Regions from separate parts of the Homo sapiens genome. Here region 2 is linked to region 1. Evidence: fine-mapped expression QTL. A gene starts in region 1. The other region holds a variant in brackets. All regions are shown on one strand. Distances are between the middles of the regions. Region 1 holds the start of SMC3 (structural maintenance of chromosomes 3). Region 2 holds the start of LOC105378479 (a long non-coding RNA gene).

Region 1 (10,223 bases):
AAAAAAGTTACTTTTTCCAGATCCATTTCTGCCCACTGGAAAATTTCAAAAAGTACAAGTTATTTTACATAAAAACCAATAAAATTAAAACTGTTTACCTTTTTAAAAATACTCAATATTTTTAAAATCCAATTTTCTAATACATCTTAACATCTGAAATTAAACAGTGAACAAAAGAAACCAATAAAACAACTATAATCACCAAATAAATTCAATTTTTGTACAGACTTCTAATAGTTTTTTCTTTAAAGATATTTCACAGTTGATCCGTTTGCTCTTACCCAATAGTTTAAAATGAATAGGAATAGCTAAATATACTACCTGGCTCTTATATCATATTACAATGGATATATAATTCTATTTTAACTATATATGTTTAACAATTTAAAGATTCATATATTGCTAACGTTCTAAAATAATCATTTTAAATCCTTAAAGTGTTCTCATGTTTAAAATCAACCCTATATTATCATGTGTAGTCTCACAGAACCACAAAAATATAAATAATTTTAAGGTACTTTTTGACTAACAAAATTCAAATATAAGCAATTCAATACGTAAAAGGGTATCAAATCCTTTTAAGTGTGTTTAGTGAAATTTTCAGTGTTAAGACTCATAAATAACTATGTCAGTCTTCTCACTCTTGAGCCAGAAATATCCTGAGCAAATTAACCACAAAGTTACCACCTTTAATGCAAAGTAAATCTCAAAAAGATCATTCATGTCATGCCAGAAAGGATGTACTTTTTAAAAAAACGCATATGACAGACACAGGAGCCAGCTTGAAGGGGCCTTTCAGTAGCTAAAACTAGGGGTAATCTGAGCATCAAAATGGCCAAATAAATTATAAATTATTGGTGGGGGGAATAATCCATGCATCCATACCAATAATAAAAAGATAAATAAGTAGGTAAGGAAGGAGGAGAATTACCAAATGCCAAGTTGTAAATGTGAAAGGAGTGCTGGAAATGAAAAATCATTTTGTGACCGTCAGAATAAAGGCAAGGGTCATCAACAGATGGTAAATGCAGGCACAAAGTTTGAAAAGGAGCACAAGATTTACATGGTCCAAAAGCATCTGCCTATATTACTTATTAGCTGCAAGGGAAAAAATAATACCTACACAGTGGAAACATTAGACCTTGACTGGGTGATCAAAAGTAATATCATCAATAAGAGTCAGACAGACCTCATGTGCCTCCAGATGTGATATCCTGAGAGGGACACAACATCACTTATGTCTTAATTCTCAAAAATAACAATGTTATAAAAGACAAAGGAAGGCTGTGGAAATGATCCAGATTAAAGGAGACTAAAGAAGCATGACAACTATGCAATACCTGCTCCTAAATTAGATCCTGTACTGGAGGGGGAAAAATGCTATCAAGAACACTTCTGGGTCAGTCAACATAACTGGAAAATGGACAGATTACTATGTATTAAATTTACTTAAGTTGTAAATTGTACTGTGATTATGAAAGAGAACATCCCTCCTCTTAGAAAGTACACATTAAAGTCAGAGGTAAAGGACCATGGTGTAAATAACTTTAAGGAAAAAGGTGTGTAAAAAGTGGAAATGATACAGCAAGTGGGGAAAATGTTAACAACAGGTGAATCTAGGTAAAGGGTTTATGAGTAGTCTCTGAACAGTTCTTATTGGGGAAATTTTTCTGTAAATTTGAAACTATTTCTAAATAAAAGTTTAAGATGACAATTTATCATTAAATGAATAAATATTTCAAACCACAATCCATCTATAAATAACTGAAATTTTAAGAATTTCCTTTTAAGAATTACTGCTAGAGTGGAACACTATATAGCAATTTTAAAGGATGCTGAATATTTAATAAAGATATTTCAAGATTTATCCTGAAGGAGAATAACAGATTACCAGTAAGTTATATGATGAACCCATTTTTTATTTAAAAATGAACCCATTTTTATTTAAAAATGAACCCATTTTTATTTAAATATATATTAAAAAGATGTATACAAAGACTAAAAACGTACTGAGGTAAACACAGTTTATATGTGGCCCCAGATTCACCTTTCTCAACCCAGGCCTTGGCTGCCAATCAATGGAAAAGCTCAGTCTCCTAATACCTCTGGTAGATTCAAGCTACCTTGGGAGTACATTCAGGTACTCCTGAATTGTGAACATGGAAAGGAGGCTATAACTCCCTGACTACTTCCGGGTGTTAGTTCCCAGAGCACCACAATCCAAAAGCTTGGAGGCATCAATGCCAGATGTAGAAAACTTTGACCAATGAAAGACAGGTGCCTGCAAACAAATCCTTGTCAGAATCCAAATCCATTCCTCTATCATCTGACCTTTCTAAGGTATGGTGGGTCCACAAAGTCTGTGAGTTATTTAACATGACTGCAAACCACCTGTCTCTTCTTTAGAAATCTATGACCAGCTTTTCTCTTCATTCTTGCCCTCAAACTGCACCTCCCATCAAAGCCTTAGCAGCTAATCCTGTCTGTGCTGTTTTCTAGGAAACCAGGACTAATCACAAGTATAGACTGTTATTATTAAGAATGGTTATCTCTGAAGAATCATGGTGTGCAGTAAAAAACAAAGAATGGTTATCTCTGAGTAAAAGGATTATAGTTTATCTTAATTTTCTTCCTTTTAGCTTTTCCATAATGTTCTATAACATGTATTTCTTTTGTTAAAGGTTAGGGGGAAAAAAATCCCTAAAAACGTATATGTTTGATGCATATACCCAACATCAGTACAAGAGATATTTTTTAATAGTCAACATCATTCATCAATCAAAGTGGTATGCTTTCACCAGATATTTTTAAGGCAAATCTCAGTACCTAACTACTTTTGGTCTTTCTTACATTATGTCTTACAACGTGTCTGGTTTTAAAATATGTTTAATCAGTACTGTTATCTTGGGTTCATTTGTTTTAGTTAAACAAAACCATTTTCCTTTGTAACAGTGACTATTAACAAATCTAATGCTGCAATCACAGAGGTAACACAACTAACTGATAACAGCTAAAACAATGGTATTTGATGGACCTTATAGACAAAATGTAATCATTCTAGCTAGTAAGTTACAGATCATTTATAAAATCACACAAATGAAATATTAAGGTACTTATTTTAAGGTGCAAGTTAAAGAAAACAGAAATCTAATAATTCTTATTTTTCTACATTTCTAAAGATTTTCTGATTGATGAAAAAAATCAGAAAGTACTTATATGTAAGCAAAACCCCAGTACAATTAAGCCACCCTATGGCATGTCAATTCAATTAAATGACTTCAGTAGACAGAGCACAAGCAGGGAAAAAAAAAGTATGCCTTCTTTATTCCCAACTACAAGGCTGCTATTGATAAATCGAGGGCAAAAAAACCTGCCTTCAATTTTATCATTTTATACAAAATGAAGTATGATTCTCTAAAGGTCTTCTGGAAACATTAGTAATGTGAATCTCACCCACGCACCACAGACTGAATTGAACTGACACCCTGAAACAACTGACACCTTAATCCCGAATGTGATAGTATTTGGACATGGGGACCCCTGGAAGATGATTATGGTTAAATGAGGACATGAGGATGGGGCCATGTGAGCACACAGCAAGACAGCAGCTGTCCATAAGCCAGGAAGAGAGCCTCACGAGAACCTAACCATGCAGGTATCCTGATCATGGATGTCTGACCTCCAGACTATGAGAAAAAAAATATCTTGTTTAAGCCACCAGTCTATGGTATTTTGTTATGGCTGCCTTAGCAAACTAATACACCACTTAGTTTGGACTCTGTACAGCAAAACTGTGTCAACAGCAGTCTGTGTTTCTGGTGTCCAGAAGCACTCCTTTCATCTATCCTGTAAAATACTCAGCAGAGTGTCAGAAAACATTTTTGTTAGCTGTATCAGCAAAATGCACACTACAATCTGAGCAATCTATAATGACTACATATTGTTAATGGCAATCACCATTAGCTCTTTATCTTCACACTTACATAAGGTTTCTCATTTAATCTTCTCAACAGCCCTATGAGACAGGTATCATCTCCACTTTACAAATGAGAAAACTGAAGCTTCTCAGAAAGTGAAAAAGAACGTGTGCCACAACTGGGATTTTTTTTTTCGTTGTTGTTATACTAGGATACATGTGCACAACATGCAGGTTTGTTACATAGGTATACATGTGCCATGTTGGTTTGCTGCACCCATCAACTCGACATTTACATTAGGTATTTCTCCTAATGCTATCCCTCCCCCAGGCCCCCACCCCCCTATAACTGGGATTTGAACCCCATTCTGTTATGCTCCAAAGTTTATGCTCTTCCAATCTAGCTACATGGTCTGTCCTTAGAGACACTGACTGCCGGGGTGGGGGGGGAATCCTGGCATCTACTTTGTGAATAAAAATTGTCTGTCTCTGAAATAAGGCAACAGTCAGCATTTTCACTAGGATATATAACAAGAACAGAAGAGCGGAAATGCTTTAAAACACTCTTACACACACATACAAGGCTACCTAGATAAAAAATGGATAACTTATGAGTGTCTTATCCAAACATTTTAAGTTTATAAAAATAAGCAATTCATCAGTGCAATAAGACAGAAAAGTTATTTCACGCAGAAAAATATAACTTAATATTCAAAGACAATTCCTGTCTCCTTAAGCCAATATAGAAATGGACAGAATTTACATTATCTGTATAGACTATAAATATGACCGAGTAAACCAAGAACACTTACCAATCACATTATGTTTTGAACTGAAGGGATCTACAATTGTTTGATCTCTGTAACTTCGAAAACCCTGGATAATCACCTAGTAAATAAAAAACATTTTTGAGAACCCACCCCACAAAAAAAATTAACATTTTTCTCTTGCATTTCTTTCTTGTTTTTCATTTAATGCAATATAGAAAACTCGAAATTTCATATAAGAAAAATTCATTTTGGAAAGTGGTGATTAAAAATCTGCTAAAAAAAAAAAAAGGTACTTTTATCGGTAATCTTTGCCAAGGCAATGCTGCTGGGTTTTATTTTTTTTTAGGAGTTATGCTGTCAACCTGTTAAGGACCTTTCAAAATCAAAAACACTGTGTGAGCTTAACTGAACCCTAAACGCTGCAGTACAATAGCAAGTCTATAAAAGCAGGCCGACGGGCCCCAGCTCTCCTGACTCCAAGACCACCGAGTGCTGCTTTCAGTCACTCACGCCGGCCAGCCTGAAAGAACCCACGTTCCAAAGAAGGAGTGCTCAGAGCCCGACAGACCCAACAGAAAACCGTCTCCAAGGCCGTGTGCCTGGGCTCATCTTTGTGGTGGAGTCCCGCGCGGGAAGACCATTTTGACAGAAGTAAACAACCGAGGGAGGCGGCGCTCCGTATCCTGCAAGCAGGAGGGTCCCGCTCACTTCGCGGGTTAACTGGGGAGAAGAACGGCTCCCCGCAGTGACAGGTGACGACACCCCAGCCAATGCCCCCAGGGCCGCCCCCGGGCCGGGGAAGCCACCTTTCCACACATCCCAGGCACATGGGCCGTGTGAGGCCACCCCTGCAGGACCACACAGCCCTTCCCGCCCGCGGCCGCCCCGGCGGGGTGCCCCCCGCCAGCTCTGGGGCCACCCAGGAAGGCCCAGTCCCTCCCAGCGGCCCGCCCGCCGGCCCTTCCACACCTCTCGGAGATCCTGCCTCTCCCAGACAAGCGCCAGCAGGGAGGCCGGGGCTGCAAAGGAGTGCCCCAATTCTCCGCGACCCCGCAGCCGGGGCACTAGCGGGACCCGGGTCTCCCTCCTCCCCCACAGTCCCCGCCCAGCCCTGGTCCAGCCTGTGGAGACAGGGGAGAGGCTGCGGGTGGCGCCGCAACACTCCCGCCTCAAGGAGCGGCCCTTACCGGCCCATGACGGGGTGGAGGGACGCGAAGGCCTTACCTGCTTTATGTACATGATTCCGGGCCCCTGGCCTGGAAGGAGACCTGCCCCGGAGCAGCAACCGCACGGCCGCAGGGTCAGGTGAGGCGCCTACGCGACCCCTCCCCCAAAGCGCCGCTCGCTCCCCTCAGCCAAACAAAATGGCGGCGCTCGTGGGGGCGGAGTCCGCGCCTCGGACGGAACCACCTTGCAGCCTTCACAGGGCGTAGGAGGAGTCAAGTTCAGGTCTGCTCTTTCTTTTAGGCAAAACCAGTCCTCCACAGCGTTTTTTGGTGGATTTCTTTTGAATCTAGAATTCTGTAGCTAACGCTTTCCTGAGACTTAGTCAAAAGCTTCACTCGGAAAATCTATGACCGTAGGGTTGGTCCGTACCACCTCCGAGCGCGGGGCCAATGGTCGCGTCCACAAAGGGGGAAAGGTTCCGCGCCAAAGCCAAGAGGGAGACTCCGAGGGCCAGTAGCGCCGCGGGCTGTCGGCCACGTGATTCCGCGCTGTTTAAAAAAGCGGACCTCGCGCGCACTGTGCTAGCCTTGGAACACATGGAATGCTGGTGATTCTTGGAATTCTGTGTGCGGAGTCACTGCTGCCCCTTTGTTATCGCTCTCCATAGGAACGTTTACAATCTTAGCACGCCCCAAGCTGGTTACGAATTGCCCACTCGGAGGACAACCCCGAAGGGATTTGTCAATGCTCGAAAATTTGTTTTAATAATGTGATGATTAATTCCGTCGGGAACTGTTTCTGTTCTACCATCTGCTATAAATCTAGGCAGATCTGTACAATTGCAACAAAGATTTAGGTAAGGCTGAAAGCTTTTAATCCACTTTAAAAACAAAAGAAAACAGCCTGAAAGATACTAGGTGCTAGTGGCAACCCTAGGTCTGTCTGATCCTTGTCAGTCTTGGGAGAAAAACATCATTTGTTTAGAAAATGAATCTCTGGGCTGCTCTGAAATTACTTGCTGGGAAGAGAACAAAATAACTACCCAAATCATCCCCAGCCCCACCCCCGCCCGCTGCTGGAGACAATTCTGGCCCTAATTATTTCTAGATTGAACTATTTTTAGTAGCCTCCTAACTGCCTCTGCTAACCAGGGTATCTCCCTAGGAGTCCTTTATCTGGAGCCCGGATCAAATCCTATCCAGCCCTTGGTTTAAAAAAATAAATAGGCCTGGTCGAGTGGCTCAAGCGTGTAATCCCAGCACTTTGGGAGGCTGAGGGGGGAGGATCACCTGAGGTCACGAGTTCAAGACCAGCCTGGCCAGCATGGCGAAACCCCCGTCTCTACTCGAAATACAAAAATTAGCTGGGCGTCGTGGCGGGTGCCTGTAATCCCAGTTAGTCGGGAGGCTGGGGCAGGAGAATTGCTTGAATCCAGGAGGCAGAGGTTGCAGTGAGCCAAGATCGCGCCACTGCACTCCAGCCTGGGCAACAGAGCGAGACTGTCTCAAAATAAATTAAATAAATATGTAAGCATTTTCTTTTCTTTATTTCTAACTTTTTTTTTTTTTTTTGACAGGATCTTGCTCTGTCACCCAGGGTGGAGCTGGAGCATAGTGGCTCGGTCATGGTTCACTGCAGCCTCAAACTCCTGGGTTCAAGCCATCCTCCCACCTCAGCCTACAGGCTGTGGCCACCAAGCCCAGCTTTTTTTTGTTTTTGTAGAGACCAGGTCTCCTTATGTTGCCCAGGCTGGTCTCTAACTTCTGGCCTCAAGCGATCCTCCCACCTCTGCCTCCCTAAATGCTGGGATTACAGGAATGAGCCACTGCACTCAATCTAAACATTTTACTTCTAGATTTTAGTTGTATTATTTAAAGCTTAGGACAGGTATGGTGGTTCACGCCTGTAATCCCAGCACTTTGGGAGGCCCAGGTGGGTGGATCACTTGAGGTCAGGAGTTTCAGAACAGTCTGGCCAACGTGGCAGATAGGATTATCTTATACATCCTGTTTGTAATTCTAAATATGATGGAGTTTTATCATCTTCATTTTATAGACTAGGAAGTGGAGGCTCAGCATGGCAAAACTCCGTCTCTACTAAAAATACAAAAATTAGCTGGGCGTGGTGCAGACGCCTGTAATCTCAGCTACTCAGGAAGCTGAGGCAGGAGAATCACTTGAACCCAGGAGGCAGAGGTTGCAGTGAGCCGAGACTGACACTGCACTCCAGCCTGGGTGATGGAGCGAGACTCTGTCTCAAAAAAAAAAATTCTAAGCCTCCACTTCCTAGTCTATAAAATGAAGATGATAAAACTCCATCATATTTAGAATTACAAACAGGATGTATAAGATAATCCTATCTACCTAAAATTGTTTATACATATGTAGGCAAAATATGAAAAGATGGTGACTAAAACATTTGAATGGCTTTCACAGTGATGGGAGTTTTACTTTCTTCCTTAGGCTTTTCCATATTAAATGAAGCTTATACAATTAGCTTATATAATTTATATAGGCAGAAAAAAAGATCAGCGAAAAACCTAAAATAATCAAAAGGTGATTTTGAGAATGTAATGCTTTTATTTATATTTATGTATTTATTGTCTATCTCTGCACGAATATAAATCCAAGAGAGAAGGGACTTCATTTTGTTCCTGCTGTTACTTAGTAACTAATTCACAGAAAGTACTCAGTATATATTTATGAGTGAAAAATGCACAGAAGCAAAGTACTTACCACCGTGCAGGGCTTACATATGCCAGCTACTGGTGTTTAAAAGCTCCCTATGTCCCCATTCCACCCACCTTTCATCCCCCTTAGGAGCATCATTCTCTTCTGGTAAGTACGTAGGAGTCGAACATATTGATCTCCTTTAGCCAGGATAAATAGTTATTCAAACCTATGAACTATCTGGAAGCAAAGGGACATTCCTGAAAGAAATTGCCACCATAAAGCAGAATGCCAGCCGCACAGTGCCTACTAGCTCATAGCTAAACAACGGAGAACTGCAGCCTTGAAACAGTGCCCCAAAGAGTTAAAGAAGTCTGTGACTAACAAATTCTTGAGTTTGCAGGATAGCAGATGAGAAAAGAAACAACTTGCTGAAACTCCCTCCACTTGTAATATTAAAAAACTGACTGAAATTGCTTGCAATCAACATGACTAACTGGAGTTTGTGCAGAATGGTTTGCTAACATCACAGCCTGAATTTCCAGTGCATGGTTCATACAAACTCCCCGAGTTTGACATATGATCCATGTGGTGGCATGAAGAGGTAACTGTGCATGCCTCAGCACTTTCTAGACCTCCGCTTTCCTTCCGCCAATCACCTACTAATCCCAGAATCCACCCATGAATTTTTTTCTAATAAAATTACTGCTTTAAACCTAGCACAGAGAGACAGATTCGAGCTGGATTCCTGTCTTTTTAGTCAACTTGCAATAAAAAGCTTTTCTTTTCTCAAAAACCCGGTATCATAGTATTGGCTTCTAGCACATCAAGCACTGAGCCCTTTTTGCTTGGTAACATCATTTTACATCTAAACATCCCATTAACAACACATGGCATCACCTCCTCAGTGTTTTTATTTCTCTCCCCCAACCCCACCTCAGATTGATTCAGCATGATCACTTAGACACACTGGAGTGGGAGGAGGGGAAAAAGAGACACTAATCATAAGTCTCTTTAAGAAGGGAGTCTCTAATGCTCAAAGCACAGACACACAACAATCATAATCCCGTATATTTGTGTAGCTCCTCACCCAGCTTCAAAGTGCTATCATGTGTATGGTCTGTCTTAGATTTTTCTCACTGATGCTGTGAGGAGCAAGGGTACTTATTTTGCATTGGGTTGGAAACCCAAGGGTCTTATGCTGACTCCATTTGACAAATTCCATGAGTTGGGACATGTCATTTTACCATGTGACTTTCTGTAGATAAAATGGGAATATTCTCTGCCTTTCCAGGCAGCAAAGATGCAGATAGACATTTGCCCCAACAGTCAGTGGTCAGACTTTGGGAGAGCCGGGTCACATCCTGGCTCTATCACTTGCTGATGTATGACCTGGGGAAGATTAACCTCCTGAAGCCTGTTTCCTCATCTATAAGTAAAGATTTTAATGATATCTATGGAAATTTCCTTGCAGGTAAATTAGGATGATTTATTTAAAATAACTGGCACAAGACATAGTGTTAGCTATTTTTGTTATTAGTTCATAGCCAAACTTGTAGTCAGCAAATCCCTGGGAAAAGACAGCAAAGAGCTAAACTGAAAGATCAAAATGCCAGGAGAAAACTGACCAAACACTCTGGGACCACCTCACCCCCCATTATTCATTCATTCATTGAACAGATATTTACTGATTACCTCTAG
Region 2 (10,223 bases), 410 kb after region 1:
ATTGATCTCTATGTCTATATCTTTAGACAAGTACCACACTGTCTTAATTACTGTAGCTTTGTAGTACGTTTTAAAATTGAGAAGTATGAATCTTCTATTTTTCTATTCAAAATTGTTTTGGCTATTCTGGGTTCCTTGCGCTTTCACATGCATTTTACAAGCATTCCACATTCATTTGATCAGCTTATCAACTTCTACAAAGAAGTCAGTTGGAATTTTGATAGGATTGCATTGAATCTGTTATATCAATTTTGGGAATATTGCCATCTTAGCAATATTAAGCCTTCCAATTCACAACTATGTGTTGTTGTTCCATTTATTTAGGTCTTCTTCAATTTCCTTCAACAATATTTTACAGTTTTGAATGTACACATCTTGTACTTCTGTTAAATTTATGCTTAGGTACTTTATTCCTTTTGATACTACTAGATGTGAAATAGTTTTCTAAATTCTATTTTTGAAACTTTAATTGCTAGCATATGGATATAGAATTAATTTTTATATGCAGATCTTATATTTTGAAATATTACTGAACTTGTTTATTAGCTCTAATAGCCTGGTGCTTGGGGGTAGATATCTTAGTATTTTCTATATAAAAGATTATTTGTCAACAGAGATAGTTTTACTTCTTCTTTTCCAAACTGGCCTTTTATTTCACTTTCTTGCCTAATTTCCCTGGCTAGCCCCTCCAGCACAATGTTGAATAGAACTGACAAGAAGAGGAGACACCCTTGTCTTGTTCATGATCTTAGGGGAAAGCTTTCAGTCTTTTACCATTAATTATGATGTTAGTTGTTAACTATGCAATTTTAAGTTTTCTAGTAGCCACAATTTTAAAACATAAGAGTAAATGGTAAAATTAATTTTACAAATAAATTTTATTTAACCCAATATATCAAAAATATTTCAGCATGTAATTATTATAAAATATTAACGAGATTTTTACTTTGCATACTAAGCCTTTGAAATCTGATGTGTGTTTTATACTTTCAGCATATCTCAAACTCCTGACCTCAATTGATCCACCCGCCTCAGCCTCTCAAAGTGCTGGGATTATAGGCGTGAGCCACTGTGCCTGGTCCTTTTAGCATATCTTAATTCAGAGTAGCTACATTTTTGGAGGGGGGTGGCGGTGGGGAGTAGCTACATTTTAAGTGCTATTCTCTACTGTATTGGACAGCACAGATCTAGAACATGGCTGGCTCAAAACAAGAAGAGCTAATGTTTACTGAACACTTCCCATGGGCTAGGGACTCTTCTAAACTTTTTCACATATTAACTAAATTAATCTTACAATGAGGAAGCTAAGGCATGGAGAGGCTATATTACTTGCATAAAATTGCCCAACTAGTGAAATAGCAGGGCTAGGATTCCAACCTGGGAAGTCAGACTTCAGAGCCTGAACTTTCTACTTTTAATAAATTTATGGAGATCTAATTCACATACCATACAATTCACCCATTTAAAGTATACAATCAGACAGTTTTTAGTGCATTAACAGAGTCCTGCAACCATCACCACAAACAATCTTAGAACATTTCATCATCCCAGAAAGAGAGCCCATACCCGTTAGCAGTTACTCCCCATTTCCCCCAACTTCTCAGTCCTATCTACTTCCGTCTGTATAGATTCGCCTATTCTGGGCATTTCATATAAATAGGATTATATGATATGTGGTCCTTTGTGGCTGGCTTGTTTCATTTAGCATAATGATTGCAAGGTTCCTCCCTGTTGTAGCATCTATCAGCACTTCCATTTCCAAAAAAATAGTCCATTGTATGGACAGATCAACTTTATCTCTTTGTCAACTGATGAACTGGGTTGTTTTCACGTTTTCAGTATTATGAATAATGCTGCTATGACCAAGCATGAGCAAGTTTTTGGATGGACATACGTTTTCGTCTCTCTTGGGTATACAGCTGGGAGTGGAACTGCGGGATGATAGAGGAACCTAGAACGTATGTTTTTTAAAGGAACTGCTAGACTGTTTTCCAAAGTGGCTGCACCATGTTACCTTCCCACCAGCAGTGTATGGGGGCTCCAGTTTCTCCACACCCTTGTCAACACTTGTTATTGTCTTTTTGTTTATAGCCATCCCAGTGGGTATGAACCGACCCAGAGCTTAAACTTTTAGCTGTTATTCTAGACCAGAGGCACTTAATGAACATGTGTTCAATGAATGAAAAAATAAACACATCTTGTCATTGTCCGTTGTGGGGTGTTCTGAATAATGGAACAAGATGGCTCAAAACTTGCCAACAAGAAGCTTTAGAAGAAGAGAAGGCTGTTTTCCTTTAAAATGGTGATCTGCTGGCTGGATCTGAGCCACCTGAGGGGCATTTTAAAAGTACAGATTCCCAGGCCCCATTTCCAGAGATTGATTTGGTAGGTAAGGTGGTATCTGGGAATCCGTATTTTTTTTTTTTTAAGAAAGCTTACCCAGATGATTCTGACATGCCACCGGGTTTGGGATCAGTCATCTAAAAGGGCATTTTGGAGTATAGTGCATGTATTTGCAATAAGCCAGTCATGTAAGTGTCTGCCAGAAAAACAAGTCTGTGGGAAGGACTGCAATGACACCTGGCTGAGTTTGGGAAGCTGAGGCCCTGCTCAGTGCTGCATTCCACATGGTGGGGGTAAGAAGAAAACTAACAAGTAAGACTCGCTGAGAGCTTACTTCCTTCCATCTATGTCTCTACATGCAATACCTCCTTTAATCTTTAAAACACCACCCTATGAGAAAGGTACTGTTAATGATTCCTTCTTTGCAGATGAAAAAACTCAGTCTCAGAGGAATTAAGCTGCCCAAGGTCTCACGACTCAGTCGCGTTAGGCTTGCAGCATGGTCTGTTTGACTCCTCTCTGCTGTTTTTCCTTCCTGGCCATTTCACTAGCCTTGAGGCACTCCCAGGATTCTGGAGGAGTCAGGACACAAAATGAAATACGCAGTAGCTGGAAAGGCCAACCAGGTAAAAACAAGATGCCTGGTGGGGTGTGCAGACAGGTTACGGCGGAAGTATTAGGGAGGAGGAGGGGAGGGGGCTCAAACAGAGGAAAAAGAAGTGGTTCTTTGTGGCAGGGCCTTTGGACAATTGGCAAGCCCCCAGCTGACCCAACTCCTGCTGCATCACGAGCTTCTTCTGTCCCCTATGCCTTCTGCCAGTCAGGGTGCTAATTTGCACGCTGGCCTTGCTTGCCCCAGAATGCCTTTCCACCCACCCTCTCCAGAGAGACTCAGATACAGCAAATATCCCTTAGATGCTTTCAGGTGCCATATCTCATTTAGATGCACTTTCAGATGAGGAAACTAAGGCTCAGAGACATTAAGTCACTTGCCTAAAATCCCACAGCAAATCAGTCGCAGTGCTGAGATTCAAACTTTATTTTTGACAACCTGATGTGGTTTAAATGTGTGTGCTCCTGCCCCCAATTTTTGTGTTGAAGCCTAATCCCCAATGTGATAGTATTAGGAGGTGAGGCCTTTGGGAGGTGATGTGGGTCATTAGGGCATAAGCCTCATGGTGGGATTACGACCCTTATAAAAGAGGCCAGAGAGAGAGTCCTTGCCCCTTCCACCATGTGAGGACAGAGCGAAAAGATGGCCATCTATTAGCCAGGAAATGGATCACTACCAGACACGGAATCTATTAACCAGGAAGCACCCAGGCTGGAGTGCAGTGGCACGATCTTGGCTCACTACAGCCTTGACCTCTGAGGCACAGACGATTCTCCCACCTCAGCCTCCCAAGTAGCTGGGACTACAGGCGTGCACCAACATGACTAGCTAATTTTTTGTGTTTTTTATAGAGATGGGGTTCTTGCTATGTTGCCCAGGCTGGTCTCAAACTCCTGGCTCAAGTGATTCTCCACCTCAGCCTCCCAAAGTGCTGGGATTACAGGCGTGAGCCACCGCACCCGGCCTTATTAGTGATTCTTAATTTGGGATAAATTGTGGGGCCCTTTGGATCCTGTCAAAAGCTCCCTTCCCCGTGTTGTGAGTGCCCACCCTGTGCGTGTGTGGGGCTCACTCACAGAGCATGCGCAGGGCAGTGTTCACACCCTGGTTAATAGCCTCTGCTTTATTCGTGATTTGAGGGGCCCCTCGCAGCAGCAGCGGTTTCACAAAAAACGTATAAAAATCTCTCAAAGACAAAGGCAACTTAACAAACTGGTTTATCACAGGGGTGGGCTGCTTCTTCACTGGCCCACGGGGACCCGGAAACCATCAAAAGCTGAGGCTGGGAAACCCAGCTTCCTGCTTCTGGCCTCAATTCCCCACCACTGTCACCACCATGACCACTAAAAATAAGACCAAACCCAGCCCACGCCCTCTCGACGTCGTTCTCCTCATGATTTAGCTGCCTGCTTCCTGTTGATCTTTCTTGTTTTATTTCACAGTCTCTGACTTCTGCTCACACCCCACTAGGCATCTCCCCAGTTTGAGCTGAAACAGGATTTAACCAGAAAGAAAAAGGGGTGGACGTGGGAAGCCGCAGGGGACTGAGGGTCCGTGTCCTGCCTCTCTGAATCCACACTTGCACCCTCCACCCAGTGGCTGCCCCAGGGGACTCTGGTCCAGACCCCATTCAAATGCTGCCAGGCGAGTTTGATGACTGCCTGGTCATAGGTTTTTGATAAATGTACTCGATCTCCCACCAATGGTTGTAGGGGTACGGAAGGCACAATCTCTATCCAGAATTATTCAATCACATGAGGTGAGGACTGGGCCACACAGGACACAAAATCTCTGGAAGCAGTTGATGAGAAATGCCATTTGCCCCTTCCCATTTGTCTCTTGGAAATTGAGGGTTGTAGGCTCAGTTTTCTGGTGGTGCCCCCAAATGCTTCTTCCAGCCATACTTTTTTTTTTTTTTTTTTTTTTTT[G/TTG]AGACAGAGTCTCTCTCTGTCACCCAGGCTAAAGTGCAGTGGTGTGATCATAGCTTGATGCAGCCTTGACCTCCCAGGTTCAAGTGATCCTCCTACCTCAGCCTCCCTAGCAGCTGGGACTACAGGCGTGTGCCACCACACCTGGCTAATTTTTGTATTTCTTTGGTAGAGACGGGGTTTCGCCATATTGCCCAGACTGGTCTTGAACTCCTGGGCTCGGGTGATCTGCCCGCCTCGACCTCCCAAAGTCCTGGGATTACAGGTGTGAGGCACCACGGCCAGCCTCAGCCATAATTTCAGACTCCATCCCTCCCAGGAGAGCTCCCTGGTGCCCTTCAGTAAAACTGAACTCCACTCTCTCCCGGTCTCTTGGCCTCCCTCTGCAATTTTTGTATTCATCTTCCTTGCTAGATTGTGAACCCTTGGAGGGGCAAGGATGATCTCTTAATCACTCTTTTTAGAAATTTCACAACTAATAGATGTTTACTATGTGGAAATATTAGAAAATTCAGATGGCTTCCCCACCACCTCCCCTGCAGAGAGGATAAAATGTATCCCTGATGCCCAGCTGGGACCTGTAACATTTTGGTGATCTTTCCATTTTCTTATGCAGACACACACACACACACACACACACACACACGCACGCACACACACCTAACAGAATGGAATCCAATACTCTATTTTGAGTCTATTACTCCTTTTTTTTTTTTTAAAAAAGTAAAGATTTGCTATAATTTTTTCATTTATTTATTTTTGTCTTTTTATTATTATTATACTTTAAGTTTTAGGGTACATGTGCACAATGTGCAGGTTAGTTACATATGTATACATGTGCCATGCTGGTGTGCTGCACCCATTAACTCGTCCTTTAGCGTTAGGTATATCTCCTAATGCTATCCCTCCCCCCTCCCCCCACCCCACAACAGTCCCCAGAGTGTGATGTTCCCCTTCCTGTGTCCATGTGTTCTCATTGTTCTATTACTCCTTTTTTAACTACTCGATAACCTTAAAACATTTTCATACCAACATTTTGCATCATTGAAAATCACTGCAGAGTTGTCTACCAGTTGTATCACAGTTTTCTCAATAAGCCCCTATTGTTGGACATTTAGGTTATAGTCATTTTTTTGAGACAGGATCTCACTCTGTCACCGAGGCTGGAGTGCAGTGGTGCAAACATGGCTCACTACAGCCTTGACCCCTTGGGCTCAAGCGATTCTCCCACCTCAGCCTCCCAAGTAACTGGGGCTACAGCCATATACCACCATGCCTGGCCAATTTTTTTTTTTAATTTTGTAGAAAGGAAGTCTCACTATGTTGCCCAGGCTGGTCTTTAATTCCTGGCCCAATTTTTTAAAAACAGCTTTGTTGGGATATAATTCGCATACCATAAAATTCACCATTTTAGGGTGTACAATTCAGTGGTTTTTACTGTATCTACAGAGTTCTGAAACCATTACCATTATCTGATTTTAGAACATTTTCATCACACCCAAAAGAAACCCCACAGCCATTTCTGTCACTGCATTTACCCCACACCCTGACACCAGGGGAACCGTTAATCTTCTTTATGTGTTTATGGATTTTTACTATTTTTTTTTCTTTTGAGACGGAGTCTTGCTCTGTCTCCCAGGCGGGAGGTGTAGTGGTGCGATCTCAGCTCACTGCAACCTCTGCCTCCTGGGTTCCAGCAATTCTGCCTCAGCCTCCCAAGTAGCTGGGATTACGGGCACCTGCCACCACGTCCAACTAATTTTTTTGTATATTTAGTAGAGACAGGGTTTCACCCTGTTGGCCAGGCTTGTCTCATCTCGAACTCCTGACCTCAAGTGATCCACCTGCCTCAGCCTCCCAAACTGCTGGGATAACAGGCATGAGCCATGGCACCTGGCTGATTTTTACTATTCTTGACATCTCAAGACATTCACATACAAATGAAATGTTACAATAGGTGTCTTCTTTCACTTAGCACAGTGTTTTCACGGTTCACCATGTTGTAGCATGTATCAGTACTTCATCCCTTTACATGGCTAAATAATATTCCTTGAATGCATATGCCATGTTTTGTTTATTCATTCATCAGTTGATGGACATTTGAGTTGTTTCCAGATTTTGGCTATTATGAATAATGCTGCTATGAACATTTGTGTGAAAATTTTTACGTGGACATATGTTTTCATTTCTCTTGGGTATATACTGAGTAGTAGAATTGGTAACTCTATGTTTAACTTTTTGAGGAACTGCCAAACTGTTTTTCAAATATGGTTGTACCATTTTACATTCCCATTAGCAATGTATGAAGACTCTGATTTCTCCATGTCTTTGCCAACACGTTATTGCCCACCAATTAATGTTTCATTCTGTGCAGCACCCAGACATGTTCCTTGAATACAGGAAATGCTGAATCTCTTTGTTGGACTGATCATGCACTTCCCCTAAACAGAAACTTTTTGCATCTCTGAAATTCATTTATGTACTCTGTCCCCTAAAACACCAAGCCAGATCCGGCCTCCACACTCGTAGTGGGGGAAGGTTTCATGAAGGAGGAGGCATTTGAGCTGGGAAATAGATGTAACAGGAAAACATGGATTTAGGGTCATAATTGATCTAGGATTGAATTCTGTTTAACCACTTGAGACTTGGTTTTATCACCCACTAAGTGGGGATAATAGTATCTGTCTCATGAAATAATGCAAATAAAATGCTTAGCACAGTGCCTGCCACATAGCGTGTCTCCTTCCTCCCTGGAGGATGAGAAGTTGGCTCTCAGTTGAGCAGGGTAAGGACCTGTCAAGCGGAGAAAAGAACATGTGCAATGGCCTAGTATTGTGAATGCAAGTGGCAGATGAGGCGACTGGTGGGAGGGTAGCAACCAAGCCAGGAGGCAGATAAGGCCAGGGCACCAATGAACTCTCTCCCTGCAAAGGAAGTTGGATCTCATCTCTCACAAGTCATAGGCAACTAGGCGGTGAGTGACAGACCATGATTTGCATTTTAAAGAGCTCGTTCTCCAGCAGCGGGAGGCTGGACTGAGGGTTGAGACAGGGGGTACTGGGAAGACCAGTAAGAGGGTCAATGAATTCGTTGTTTAAATGAATTCAGGTGGGAAACCAGGGGCTTAGACTAGGGCTGTGACAATGGGGATAGAAAGAGGAGCTGAACGGGAGAGAGGTTTCGGAGGTAGTGTCAATGGGCAATGGTGGCCACGTGGCCTTTGAGTTATGGTCTGACAAGCTCTCTGTACACCTGCCAGGGAGGGAGGGCAGGGTGCTCTCCAAGTCGCACCTTATTAAATCCTCACAACACCTCGGCAAGGATGCACCTGCTTTCCCAGTTACAGATCAAGAAACCGAGACTCAAAGAGAGTAAGCAACTTGCCCAAAGTCATAAAGAGTAGAGATGAAGTTTGAATCCAGGTCTGTCTGCTTTCTTTCATCTTGATGTCTCTCTGGGAAGGACTTAGCTGCACAGGAAAGCCTGGGATGGATTTGGACAGGGAGGGAGAGGAGGCAAAGTCAGTTCTTTTTCGTGGCGAGCAGCCTTGGTGTGATTGGCAGGTCAGAGCTCAGGGGATCCAGCTGAGGCCTTGGAAGAGTTCTCTAAGGAGCCAAGGCAGAAATGTGGAAGTAAGAGAATTTGTCCAACAGGAGGTTGGGATGTCTCTGATCCTCTCTCTTCCTCAGGGTGCTGGGCACAGTAAGACGCCTTGGAAACAGAAGTAGGTTGAATGGAGTGACCATGCTGGGGTGAGGGTAGTACAGGGGCCCAGGCAGAGAGCAGGCAGCTTCCTTCCTCCTTCCCCATTCAGAACCCCATCCCGTGCTGGAAGCCTGGATCCTCTGGGTTTGGGGCCACGCTGGAAGGGAGTGGAGGGTGTTCCCAGGGCTGGTGGCCACAACCAGGCTCTCCCAAGCAGCCTTGAGCCTCTCCCTGAGCTCTGCCACCAGTAGGGCTGTTACAGACCCCAGCTCCTTGCAGGAAAACTTAACATTCACACTGCGTGGAGCTGTCCCAGGGCCGCCCTCACAGGCGAGCTGAGAGGTGGTGTGGAGATGGTGCGAGATCCCTCTGAACAAGTTGGGAGCTTGGATTCCTCCCCTGGTGCCTGGGGGAGGGGACGCCAGGCCCAGACTCTCAAGCTGCCAGGCCTCACACAGAAGGGGGGACCCCTGGGTTCTCCTCTCCCCCAGGCCACACCTCTAATGGCCCCCTTCATGTGCACGCTGGCCTTTGTCCACCAGGCCCTGTTCACTTGGCTTAAAGTTAGCAGAGGCCCAGATGGGGACATGGCAGGGAGCCATCTGGTCTTCTCCCAAGACTCTCAGCCCCCCACCCTCCCAATGCCTCAGCCTGCCTTGTCCCAACGACCCCCTGCTTCTCTCTCCCAAAGTCTTTATCCGTGTTTACTATCTGTCAATTAGGCGGCCTCAATACTCTGCACATGGAAAGCCAGCCAGCCAAGCGTGGTAATCCCTCAGCCCCCTCCCCACGCCTCTTTCCCTCTGGGTTAGGGGAGAGGGCAGGAGGAGGAAGGCAGTCTGCAGTTTCCCCTCCAGTGAAAAGTGGCCGTGGCATGATCTCTGTGGTCAACATTTTCTCCCTCACTGCAGACCCCTCCCAGGCCACAGCTGGAGTGGGCAGAGGTCGGGGTGAGGAGGGACGGCAGCAAGCAGGTGCCTATGAGTGAGGGGTGGGCAGGGGCCAGAGGCGTGGGGTGAGGCTGCCTGACTGACTCAGGGCCTGGCTCGGTTCGCCTTTCCAGCTGGAAGTGTTCCAGGCCACGGGCAGGTGTGTCTACTGGCTCCTCCCCATGGGAGGGCCAGGCTCAGCACATCCCTCTGGCCACTCTGAGGCCTCCATCCATGTAGAAGGAAGAGGGAAAGAAAGAATGAAAGTGGAAGAGGAAGGAGACAGGGTGAGAGGTGGTGCAGGGGGACTGGGGACAGAGGGTGTGTCCCAGGAGGGGCCTCTCGTGCCCTCCAGTGACAGCATCTGGATGCCTGCCGTGGACCCCTCCAGCACCAGGCACCGACCCACACTCCCTTCATCCCAGCCTCAGCTCCAGGAAGAGGAGGGGCTCATCCCTACGCTAGAGCTGAGAACACTGAGCTCAGGGAAAACACTCGGCTGGTCCTTGGCAAAACTTCTGGCTCCATGGTTCTTCTTCCTCCTCAGCCTCCATCACAGCCCAGCGCCTCCCCACCAGGTGGGGAATCCGCCTTCTTGAGGGACACAGGCACTCTGATTTCAGGCTCCTATTTGTTCTGGAAAACAAATAGTTTTGCTGCAGGGATCACAGGAGCTGTCCTAACAGCTTCCCGGGGGAGAGGGCCCAG

The links.
Region 2: its variant is fine-mapped to the expression of SMC3 in whole blood (INTERVAL, PIP above 0.99).

Annotation. Positions count from the first base shown.
Region 1 is chr10:110,563,519-110,573,741 of GRCh38, reverse strand. SMC3 (structural maintenance of chromosomes 3) reads right to left here and starts at 6,047. Exons shown (of 29, transcript NM_005445.4): 1 at 5,911-6,047; 2 at 4,729-4,804; 3 at 1-35. The coding sequence starts at 5,925. LOC105378483 (a long non-coding RNA gene) reads left to right here and starts at 6,434. Exons shown (of 2, transcript XR_946318.2): 1 at 6,434-6,709; 2 at 8,729-9,241. RefSeq lists a silencer at 5,438-5,727 and enhancers at 6,068-6,167, 6,178-6,227, 7,042-7,744.
Region 2 is chr10:110,151,158-110,161,380 of GRCh38, reverse strand. LOC105378479 (a long non-coding RNA gene) reads left to right here and starts at 9,401. Exons shown (of 3, transcript NR_164121.1): 1 at 9,401-10,093. RefSeq lists enhancers at 8,256-9,248, 9,249-10,223. The variant G/TTG (reference allele first, on the strand shown) is at 4,885.